Linked DNA regions of Homo sapiens. The protein of the gene in region 2 purifies or fractionates together with the protein of the main gene of each other region. This does not show direct contact. Each region holds a gene or a part of one and is shown on either strand. Other genes may lie near its edges.

Region 1 (3,657 bases), on a different chromosome or scaffold from region 2:
GCGGCTTATCTGTCAGTTCCTCTGATGTCTGACAATATCATCAATGTTTATGTGTTTAATGAGCTCTGGAGAGGACAAGAATGATACAGCACTCATCTTATGAATTGGTGGCCTCCATATTCTTCCCATAAAACAGTAATTCCCAACCTGGCTGTACCCTAGAATCATCTGAGAGTTGTTTAATAAATAACAATCTCTGGGACAGTCCTCAGAGATTCTGATTTAATTGGTCTGTCATGAGACCTCAGCATCTTTTTTGCTTGAGTTCCCCTGGGGTTTATAACATACAGTTGGGTTGAACACCACAGCCAACAGCCATCTTGTTTAACCCAGCAGTGTTTGAAAGAAAATGTCATTCACATGCTTTTAGATATCTGCTTTGTACGTTTATATTACGCCACAAAGCCCACACCAGTCTCTCTGCCCACCACATAATGAGAACACAGTGATTTTTGTGGAATGAAGCCTTCATGTAATGCAAGCAGTTTGAGTCAGACTGTTTAGTTCAGGTCTTCAAAAAAGATTTTAAAATGAGTGTTAGAACACAAGACATTAACACCAGAGGGTCTACAGGTGATCGATCATACTGGTGGGCGGCTAAGGTTTCAGATAGTGAGTGCTACACTACTTGTTTTTGTTTCTTAATTTTAGGTCTGAAAGCTAATAACATTGACTACACAGTTCATTCAGTCAGAAGAGCTCTAGAAAACACTGCAGTGAAGGCTGACAATATAGAAGTATTTGCTCAAGGACATGGTATTATTCAGGTATTGTTGCCTATATGAAAAATGGGTTGTAAAGCATCATTGAGATAATATCTTAGATATTATTGGGTAATATTTTGTTTTATAACAGTGATTCAGTATATCTGAATTATGGATTATATGGCCATAGAACTACAAGCAAAAAGGATACACAAACAAATTTTGTAGTTAAGACAAATCTGTTGCACTAAGATCAAGAAATGTAATAGATGGAGGCCATGTAGAGGTTAGAAATTCAAAGAAATCGAGGTCAAAAACTGGCCAATCATAACGGCATAGGGATTAGTTCCTAAATTTGGTCACTTGAGAATAACAGTGTGAATAGAGTGGAGTGGAAGATGTGACTGGTGTTGTTTCTAAAAATGTAGAATTGTCCTCTTAGTTGGGGTACTAGGTAGTTTTGAGAGGTGAATATAGACACTAACTTTTTGTTTTACAACTGAAATCAAATTGATTGGTAATTTGCAACAAAATATTTTTTGACCCAACCATTTATATCTTACCATGTATATTATTTTCACTAGGTTGATAAAGCCTATGACTACCTCGTTCAGAATACATCATTTGCTAATAAATTAGGTTTTACTGTTACTGTTGGAAATAACCGTGGCATCTACCTCCGAGATCCTGTTCAGGTGGCTGCACCTTCAGATCATGGCGTTGGCATTGAACCTGTATTTCCGGAGAACACAGGTCAGTAATAGGCTGGCAGTAAGCTGACGTATTCACATTTGCTGTTTGAATGAGTGGTATCATAATAAAGAATTGCTGTTTGGGCCAGTGTTGTGAAGAGAATACATGAATTGACAGTATGATTATTTTAAATCTTAGTCATAAGAGAAAATATTAGAGCAATTTGGGGTCCTTGTACAATGGCAATTTAGTTAGCATCTTAAACTACCAGGGAAAACAGTAGAATGAGCCTCAGTGACCCACAGCTTTATTAAATTGTGGATAATAAAATATCAAATTTCTTTTCCACTTTACCTACTTAGGTATAAGACAGAGCTTTCTGTTGAAGAATGAAAAGTAGAAGCAGTCTAGGAGAACTGCAGCTCGATTAGGTGTGAACAAAAATAATCATCGCTATTATCTGGCTGTCTTCATTTCAGTTGAATACTATGACCTGTGTGCAGTAATGAAAACATTCACTTAAACTCTTTATTTTAAGGTCATACCAGTGCTTGGTGAAAGTATAAATGAATCATGAGTAATCTAAATTGTAAGGAAGATTATTTGACTGTTTTATTTAAGCTGTGTTTTGGATGCATTTTACAGCCAACCAAACCAAGTCGCTAAATTTTTTTGGAAAGATGTAACATTTTTAAATGGAAAAAAGGAAAAAAATACTCATCTTTAATTTTTGGTCTTTTTCGTGCCAGAAAACTCTGAAAAAATATCCCTTCAGCTTCATTTAGCTCTGACTTCAAATTCATCTTGGGTTCAGTGTCCCAGCCATTTGGAACTCATGAATCAATGTAGACACATAAACATACGTGTGGATCCCAGGGGCTTAAGAGAAGGATTGCATTATACAGAGGTATTGATGTATCTTCATTTTTACTTTCTTCACTCTTTAAAATGTTTAAAAGGTTAAAAAAAAATCCAAAGTATATTTGCAATATATTGCTTTCTTGCTAAGAAATAACTAGACCTATCCATCTGCCAGGTTATTCAGTTCTTCTGGTGTGTCTATATTCATTTAAGCAGTGAGTTTCTAAAGAATCATATTTTGTCCTTGTATGAATAAGTAAAAGGAAAGAAGAGGTACAGCAGAACCTTTCAATTAGATCTCCCTCTAACTGGTGTTTTCTTTTGTCAGCTAAACAAAGCTGCAGTTGCTTGTTGTTGTTGTTGTTGTTGTTTTAAGAGACAGAGTCTTGCTCTGTTGCCCAGGCTGGAGTACAGTGGTGTGATCGTGGTTCGCTGCAGCCTTGAACTCTTGGGCTCAAGTGATATTCACACCTTAGCCTCCTGAGTAGCTAGGACTAGTGGCGTGCACCACCAAGCCTGGCTAAATTTTTTTATTTTTGTAGAGACAGGATCTCTCTATGTTGCCCAGTCTTGTCTTGAACTCTTGGCCTCAAGTGATCCTCCTGCCTTGGCCTCCCAGGGCTTTGGGATTACAGGTGTGAACCACCACACCCAGCCAGTTATACCTTTTAGTACTCAGATGAAGAAAGCATCTGTTAAACAAATAGTTGTAAACCAGGCATAGAATAGTATCACAACAGTATCTCCACATCTAAAGTTGTCTGTAGTACTAGTTTGAGCTAATTTTTCAGTTGGGAGTAATTAAAATGCACTTATTTTGTACCTGACGTCTCATTTTCCCATTTCAACTGGTCAAATGTTGCTATACATTTGTTTGGGCTGTTTGCTATTAATTATGTGACCTAGTGTCAGGAAATTGGTGTCAACCTCTGGTTAAGACCTTGATTAAAAGTAGATTGATTTATTCTGTCAGTAGTTTAGACCTTCCCCCGCTCTTTTAAACATTTGTTTATGGATATTGACACTTACCGATTCTTTTTTCAAGGTATGTGGCTATGATATAGCATCCCCTAACGCAGGTCCGCTCTTCAGAGTTCCGATCACTGCAGTTATAGCAGCAAAGTAAGTAACAGGTTACTCACAGCTTACTGGTACATCTAAGATTTTAATGACTATTCATGGAGTCTTGTGGACTTTTAATGATCACTAATACAGAACCAGGTAATGGGGATTTTGTCTTAGTTCTGCTCCCAGCTAGCATTTTTAGGTGTCATGTAGTCAGCCATACTGACTCTTGTGTGCTCTGAGAGTAACTGATGGCACCTGGCATCTGCCCTACCTCTGCATCAAAACTATTTCCACCACAGTCACTCTGAGCTCTGCATTGCCCAGTTCAGAG
Region 2 (3,090 bases):
CTCATTGCTTTTTACTAAACATAAAATAGAAATTCATAATGGAATAAAACACCAAAGATACATCCTCATTATTGATTTAGAATTGAATGACTTTACCATCCAATAAATTCGAGGTTCAAGCAATGAATTCTAAGCACAATGTGGTGTATTCCTGTGGTTCAAATAACAATAGAAAAGAGCAATATTTATCCTGGGATAAGCTGTTACTTCTTAATAATTATAAATAGACATCATAAATTCTACAAATGAAATATAAAATACATGAATGAAATATACATGGCTTCAAAATTCTAAGAAATTTTTGTCATATTTTGTATAATTTGGCAGTTTGTATGAAAAAAACAGAAAAGAGCATGTTATTGTCAATGTTCTTAAGTTTTCATACACACATAAACACACACATATATATATTTTTTTTTCTAGACTAATATTAGGTCAAAGGCTTTTCTAGGTATACGTTGGGAAATTATTCATACACATACAGTATAGAAAAACCAGTAAGAAATATAAAATGTTTCATACACCACCAGTTTGTTTTCTGCTAGAAGACACACAATGCCCCTCTCATGAATCTATGGAGATGAAGGCTTCTCTCCTTTCACCCAGTACCTCACTTGCCGCAAAACTGAAAGAAAAGTCTGCTTTAGCTTCTTGTTTCCCCAAATCAGGATGAATGGGTGGATTGAAGGATAGCTGAATCTAATAGCTTTGCAGAACATGAAGACAGGTTTGTTTTCCAGACTCCCAAAACTCCAAACTGATATCATTATGGACAGAAAGTAAACGGCACATAACAAGAGGAAAAAGATCACAGTTTGCAAAGCTTTTATGTGGACCTTGGTGCTGGGATCTTGAGATCCTTTACCATGGAGCTGCATCTTCTTGAGATGTTTACACAGAGAACAGATTAACAGCAAAAAACATAGCAGGGTCAGAGTGAAGGGCACTAAGTTTCCTAGCGTGGTTACAGTCGCATCTGAAAGGTACACTGCACTCCTCAATTTGATCTTCCAAGTCAAGTTTCCTTCATATTCTTTTGTCCGTACAATCTCTTTCATGTTTATCACAAAAAGTTGACAAGCCAAAAATAGTAAAGGCCCCAACAGCATCACCAGAATGACACTCTTAACTCTCCTCTTTAAGTGAAGAAAAATAAGGTTGGAGAAATTGGCAATCTTGAGCAAATAAAATATGCTGAGGCTAGTAGCAAGCCAGTTGCTGAAATGGCCGGTTACTGCCCAGACATTATAAGCAGTAGTTCTTACTTCTACACTATAAAAAGCTGGATTAAACACAGTTGAATACCAATTTAATAATAATACCCAGAGCAAACCAACTCTGGAGACCGCCAGAGCAGTGAGAATCTGGTCAGCAAAAGAGATCTTTTGTCTCTTGACCCGCTCAATGGAATTTACCAATGCTATGAAGCCATTAGCAAAATTTCCAATAACAAATAGAACCACTACCACACTGGAAAAAATGATGGGTATAAAAGTTGTCATGTCTGAACAGACAAAAAAAAATTGTTTTAATGCTGGTGTTGTGTCCGGAGTTGGTTCCTGCAGGTGGGTTCGTGGTCTCCCTGACTTCAAAAATGGAGCCACCGACCTTCACGGTGAGTGTTGCTGCTCTTAAAGATGGCATGGACCCAAAGAGTGAGCAACAGCAAGGTTTATTGAGAAGAGAGAAAGGACAAAGCTTCCACCGGGAGGAAGGCGACCCAGGCAGGTTGCTGCTGCTGGCTGAAGCCATGAGCTTTTATTCCCTTATTTGTCCCCTCCCATTTTCCTTTTTTTGTCCTATCAGAGTGCCCTTTTTTCAATCCTCCCTGCCATTGGCTACTTTTAGGATCCTGTTGCTTGGTGTATTTTAGAGCGATTGGTGCATTTTACAATCCTCTTGCTAGCTACAGAGCGCTGATTGCTGTGGTTTTACAGTGCACTGTTTGGTGCATTTTACAATCCCCTTGCTAGCTACAGAAACGTTCTCCAAGTCCCCACTCGATTCAGAAAGTATAGCTCGCTTCATCTCTCAATGTAATATAACTGGGTGTGATTGCTTGAATATCCTGACCTTAAATTCTATATGCACCTGATTTGTGAATGTGCTGTGACATTCTTTTTACTTTTAATTGTTGTGACCAGTGTCAAGCCAGAAATAACCATGGCATGTTAACTGATGAGTTCAATGATCTCTTTATGGAAAACATTCTTATTTTCAAACAACTCAAATTAACTCATTCATTCACTGTCTGTTCTTGTTATAGGCTGGAATTATTCACACTGAAATTGACGTGAAACCTGAATCCTCATTTGCTAGTACGCAAATAGGGACATATTCACTTTCAGTGTTTGCAATTTTTCCTTGTGTAACCTCTCCATCATTTATCTTTAGTGACTTCAGTTGTTAGGGAAGTTTTGTAACTCAATATATATATCATATAGTAAATATCTAAATTCTCAAAGGGAGCTTGGTCATAACTAAGATCATCACCAATGCGGACTTTTTTAAATCACAGATTTAAATACACAGAATCCTAACTGCTTTTATCAAAGGCATCTCAGATTTTCTTGAGAACCACAGGCAGGCCACTACTCCATAAGATCTGGTTGCTGCTAACACTTTCGTATAACTTCATTATTCACAAACTCATAAATATGCACACAAATATACACATGTGCACACCACTTATGAATGGAACAAATTATTTTCTTGTAATTTCCAAAATAAAAAATGAGTTTCCAAGAGGCTGTGCAGATGAAATTAGTCCTATTTTCCCACTCAGGGTTTTCAGCCCATGAATAATATTTATTTATCAAAAACATTATCTCTAATTCTTAGGACTTGGTAAAGTTTCTCTCAAGTCTAATGTTTAAATATTATTATAAAAAATATTTAGCAATTTTATAAGAATTCCTCAGTACCAGACCCTTTGATATATAATCCTGCAGTATCCTATCACAGGAAGACTGACTACCTTGCCCCTGAACTTGGAGTTCAATCATTTCACTTACTTTGATAAACAGAAAATTACTACAGTTTGCATAGAGATTTGAGATGGCTTCCATACTGGGGATTCTTCTTCTTTCC
Region 3 (3,657 bases), on a different chromosome or scaffold from region 2:
TTTTGTATGTTTGTATGTATGTATGTATGTATGTATGTATGTATGTATGTATGTATGTATTTATTTATTTTGAGACAGAGTCTCGCTCTGTCGCCCGGGCTGGAGGCAGTGGTGCGATCTCAGCTCACTGTAACCTCTGCCTCCCAGGTTCAAGTGATTCCCCTGCCTCAGCCTCCTGAGTAACTGGGACTACAGGCATCCACCACCACGCCTGGCTAATTTTTGTATTTATAGTAGAGACGGGATTTCACCGTGTTGGCCAGTATGGTCTCGATTTCCTGACCTTGTGATCCACCTGCCTTGGCCTCCCAAAGTGCTGGGATTACAGGCACCTGCCACCTTGCCTGGCTAGTTTTTGTATTTTTAATAGAGATGGGGTTTTACCATGTTGGCCAGGCTGATCTGGAACTCCTGACCTCAGGTGATCTGCCCACCTCAGCTTCCCAAAGTGCTGGGATTACAGGCGCCTGCCACCTTGCCTGGTTAGTTTTTGTATTTTTAATAGAGATGGGGTTTCACAGTGTTGGCCAGGCTGATCTGGAACTCCTGACCTCCAGTGATCTGCCCGCCTCGGCCTCGCAGATGTCCTTGCCTTTTGTTTCTTCTCTATACCTTGAAAGTCTGTGCTGTGTTAAGGGCGTCATGCTCAGGCTTACTGATTCTGAAGGGGTTATCAGTGGATGATTCCGGATGTTGTGGAATATCAAACAGATCGAAAAGTTTCTTTAATAATAGTGATGGCACCTTGTGTTTAGAGTTCGCAGTGGCATTTACCAGATGCTCTCTGGCCACCTTCATGTGAACCTCCCAGCTGACTCGGGCCTGCTTTATCTGCCATCAGATTGTAATGGCAGCTTTGTGGAGGCCGCCCTGTAGATTATGCGATTAATGACCACATTCATGTGAGCAATAGTGCTGGCTTAGTTTTTTTCCAGTTAGGTTGTTTGGAATGGTAGCTGCATACCTGAGGGCAGTGCAGCAATGCCTTAGTTACGAAGGCAGTTTGCATTCCACAGGTAGAGTCTTTCCTTATGGCCAGGGCACTGATCCCTCACATACCAGAAAGTATCATTCGTCCCTGCCCCAGACAGACTCCAGATGCGTCCCAGTGGTGGTTCTTGGGATAGTTTTGTAGGAATTTCTGCAGAATTTTAGTGTTCAGATGAGTATGCTCTGTCTGTGGACTGGAGACAGGCTTCAAAGAATTCTCAAATTATTCTGCACAATACATCATTTTTTGGTATCTCTGCAGTTCCAAAGGTAACTACTTGAGGGACAGTGGCCACCAAAGAGCACAAGTTTTGACATTTTGATGAAAAGCACACATAAAACAAATAAAAACCACCTTTCCTTAAGTTACCTATTGAATTGTGCTTATTCCCATAAATGCATGTTCATCTGTTTGCTTAATAAAACTTAAAGCACCATAGAGTCTTTCTTGTTTCCTAGAATAAGGTCTTTTTTCTTTTCCTTTCTTGTCTTTTTTTGTTGTTGTTGTTGTTGAGACGGAGTCTCGCTTTGTTGCCCAGGCTGGAAGTGCCCTGTGGTGTGATCTTGGCTCACTGCAGGCTGCGCCTCCCGAGTTCATGCCATTCTCCTGCCTCAGCCTCCCAAGTAGCTGGGACTACAGGCGCCCGCCGCCACACTTGGCTAATGTTTTGTATTTTTAGTAGAGACGGGGTTTCACTATGTTAGCCAGGATGGTCTTGATCTCCTGACCTTCGTGATCTGCCCGCCTCTGCCTCCCAAAGTGCTGGGATTACAGGCGTGAGCCACCGTGCCTGGCCGGTCTTTTTTATTTTCAATTAAAAAAAAATATATATATATATGTATTTTTAAACAGAGATGGGATTCCGCCATGTTTGCCAGGCTGGTCTCAAACCCCTGGCCTCAAGTGATCCTCCCATCTCGGGTTCCCAAAGTGCTAGGATTACAGGTGTGAGCTACCACACCTGGCCTATTTTCAATCCTAAAAAAATCATTTGCGTGTTTCTTGATTTTAGGCACTGAACTAGACGGAGATGAGAATATAGAAATAATAAAATGGGGCTGGGCGCTGTGGCTCACACCTGTAATCCCAGCACTATGGGAAGTAAAGGAGCAGATCACTTCAGGTCAGGAGTTCGAGACCAGCCTGGCCAACATGGTGAAACCCCATCTCTGCTGAAAATACAAAAATTAGTCGGGTATGGTGGCGTGCGCCTATAATCTCAGCTACTCGGGAGGCTGAGGCAGGAGAATCACTAGAACCCGGGAGGCAGAGGCTGCAGTGAGCCGAGATTGTGCCACTGCACTCCAGCCTTGGGTGACAGAGCAAGACTCTGTCTCAAAAAAAAAAAAAAAAAAAAATAGAAAAAATAAAATGATGTCTCAACTATCAAAGACCTCGCAAGAAGCCTTAAAAATGATAAATAAGGCTAGAGATTTTGCTGTACCTTTGGAAAGTGCATGTGTGGTGGTTTATAGTACATATTCTGTGGCCAGATAAAATTTATATGATTATTTTTCCTCCCAAGAATATGAGATGACAGAGGGGGAGGAGCGTGGATGGAGACTAGGAGCCTTGGGCTCTTGTCCAGCCTTTCCCTGACCAACCCTGAGGTCTGGGACAATCAGCACAGAACTCCAGGTCTCAGTTTTCATATTTGTAAAATGAAGGACTTAGAGGACCTTCACCTTTTGCAAATCTGATAGCAACTGTGACCCCTTCCCACGAAGGGGGACAGCTTCATAGGCGTGGACCCAGATTAAGAACTGGATTATTCCATCTCTAAGCTCCCTCTCACCTGTGATATTCTGTAATCCTATTTTCCTGGTCATCTTTGAGCTAATAATAATGATGACTTGTATTTATAGAAGATGCACATTCCAAAGCACTTTCACCTCTCATTCTTTTGTCCTCAAAACATTTCTGAGTGGTACAGGTGGCAATAGATATTCCTTCCTGTGATGAAGAAAGTGGGCCAGGCTTGGTCAGCACGTTGATGGAGCAAACAGCCAGAGGCCGTCCTGGGACCAGAACTGGGGCTCCTGGTTGCCATCCTGGGGCTTTTCCATTAGGTTTTGCTTCCTTGGTGGTTGTCATTATGAGTTATGTTTGGCAGTTCAAATATCCCAGAATGTGTCACTCGTAGAGGAAACTATTTGTTCATCTGCCGGAAAGGACTGTTTTTCTCTCTGAATTTGGATCACTAAACACCTTTTCTGTATGTGAAAAGGCTACTTATTTGTTTTTGTTATTTTTTCTTGCCACATTTTTCATAGGGACAGTTTGTAGGGCTTGAGTGTTTTGAGCAGACTTATTTAATGCTTATTGATGAAAGAGTACATTAAAATGACTACTTCTCAGTTGCTTAGCACTTGAGAAAGTTGTGAAATAAATGTTAAGTAAAAATTCCAAATGTCTCACTTGTCCTATCCAAGTATGTCCTCACAGATGAGATGCTTTCTGCAGTCTAGGAGGCCCCTCCCTGGGCCCAGAGCCGCTGGGTGGGTTTGAAAGTTGGGTGTGGATTGTGCCAGTGGCCAGGACTGTCCAACAGTGGCTGCTTGTGGCCTTCTGGCTAGATTCCTAACATTTTATGGACTAATTTTTTTGGTTTATTGAAAGAGTACACATTCTGAGCTATATAAAGAGCTCATATATGTAAAAGAACA

Evidence for each region.
Region 1: the proteins of TAS2R31 (region 2) and TPP2 purify together in Homo sapiens (affinity purification with mass spectrometry; one large-scale study listed by BioGRID and IntAct). This does not show direct contact.
Region 3: the proteins of TAS2R31 (region 2) and PACSIN2 purify together in Homo sapiens (affinity purification with mass spectrometry; one large-scale study listed by BioGRID and IntAct). This does not show direct contact.

What each region holds. Positions count from the first base shown.
Region 1 is NC_000013.11:102,634,936-102,638,592, forward strand, and holds part of TPP2 (tripeptidyl-peptidase 2), read left to right. Parts: intron 1-651; coding exon 652-767; intron 768-1,288; coding exon 1,289-1,457; intron 1,458-2,146; coding exon 2,147-2,304; intron 2,305-3,303; coding exon 3,304-3,380; intron 3,381-3,657. UniProt on the Homo sapiens protein: Cytosolic tripeptidyl-peptidase that releases N-terminal tripeptides from polypeptides and is a component of the proteolytic cascade acting downstream of the 26S proteasome in the ubiquitin-proteasome pathway.
Region 2 is NC_000012.12:11,029,834-11,032,923, forward strand, and holds TAS2R31 (taste receptor type 2 member 31), read right to left. Parts: upstream 1,575-3,090; 5' UTR 1,503-1,574; coding exon 573-1,502; 3' UTR 554-572; downstream 1-553. UniProt on the Homo sapiens protein: Receptor that may play a role in the perception of bitterness and is gustducin-linked. May play a role in sensing the chemical composition of the gastrointestinal content.
Region 3 is NC_000022.11:43,008,558-43,012,214, reverse strand, and holds part of PACSIN2 (protein kinase C and casein kinase substrate in neurons protein 2), read left to right. Parts: intron 1-3,657.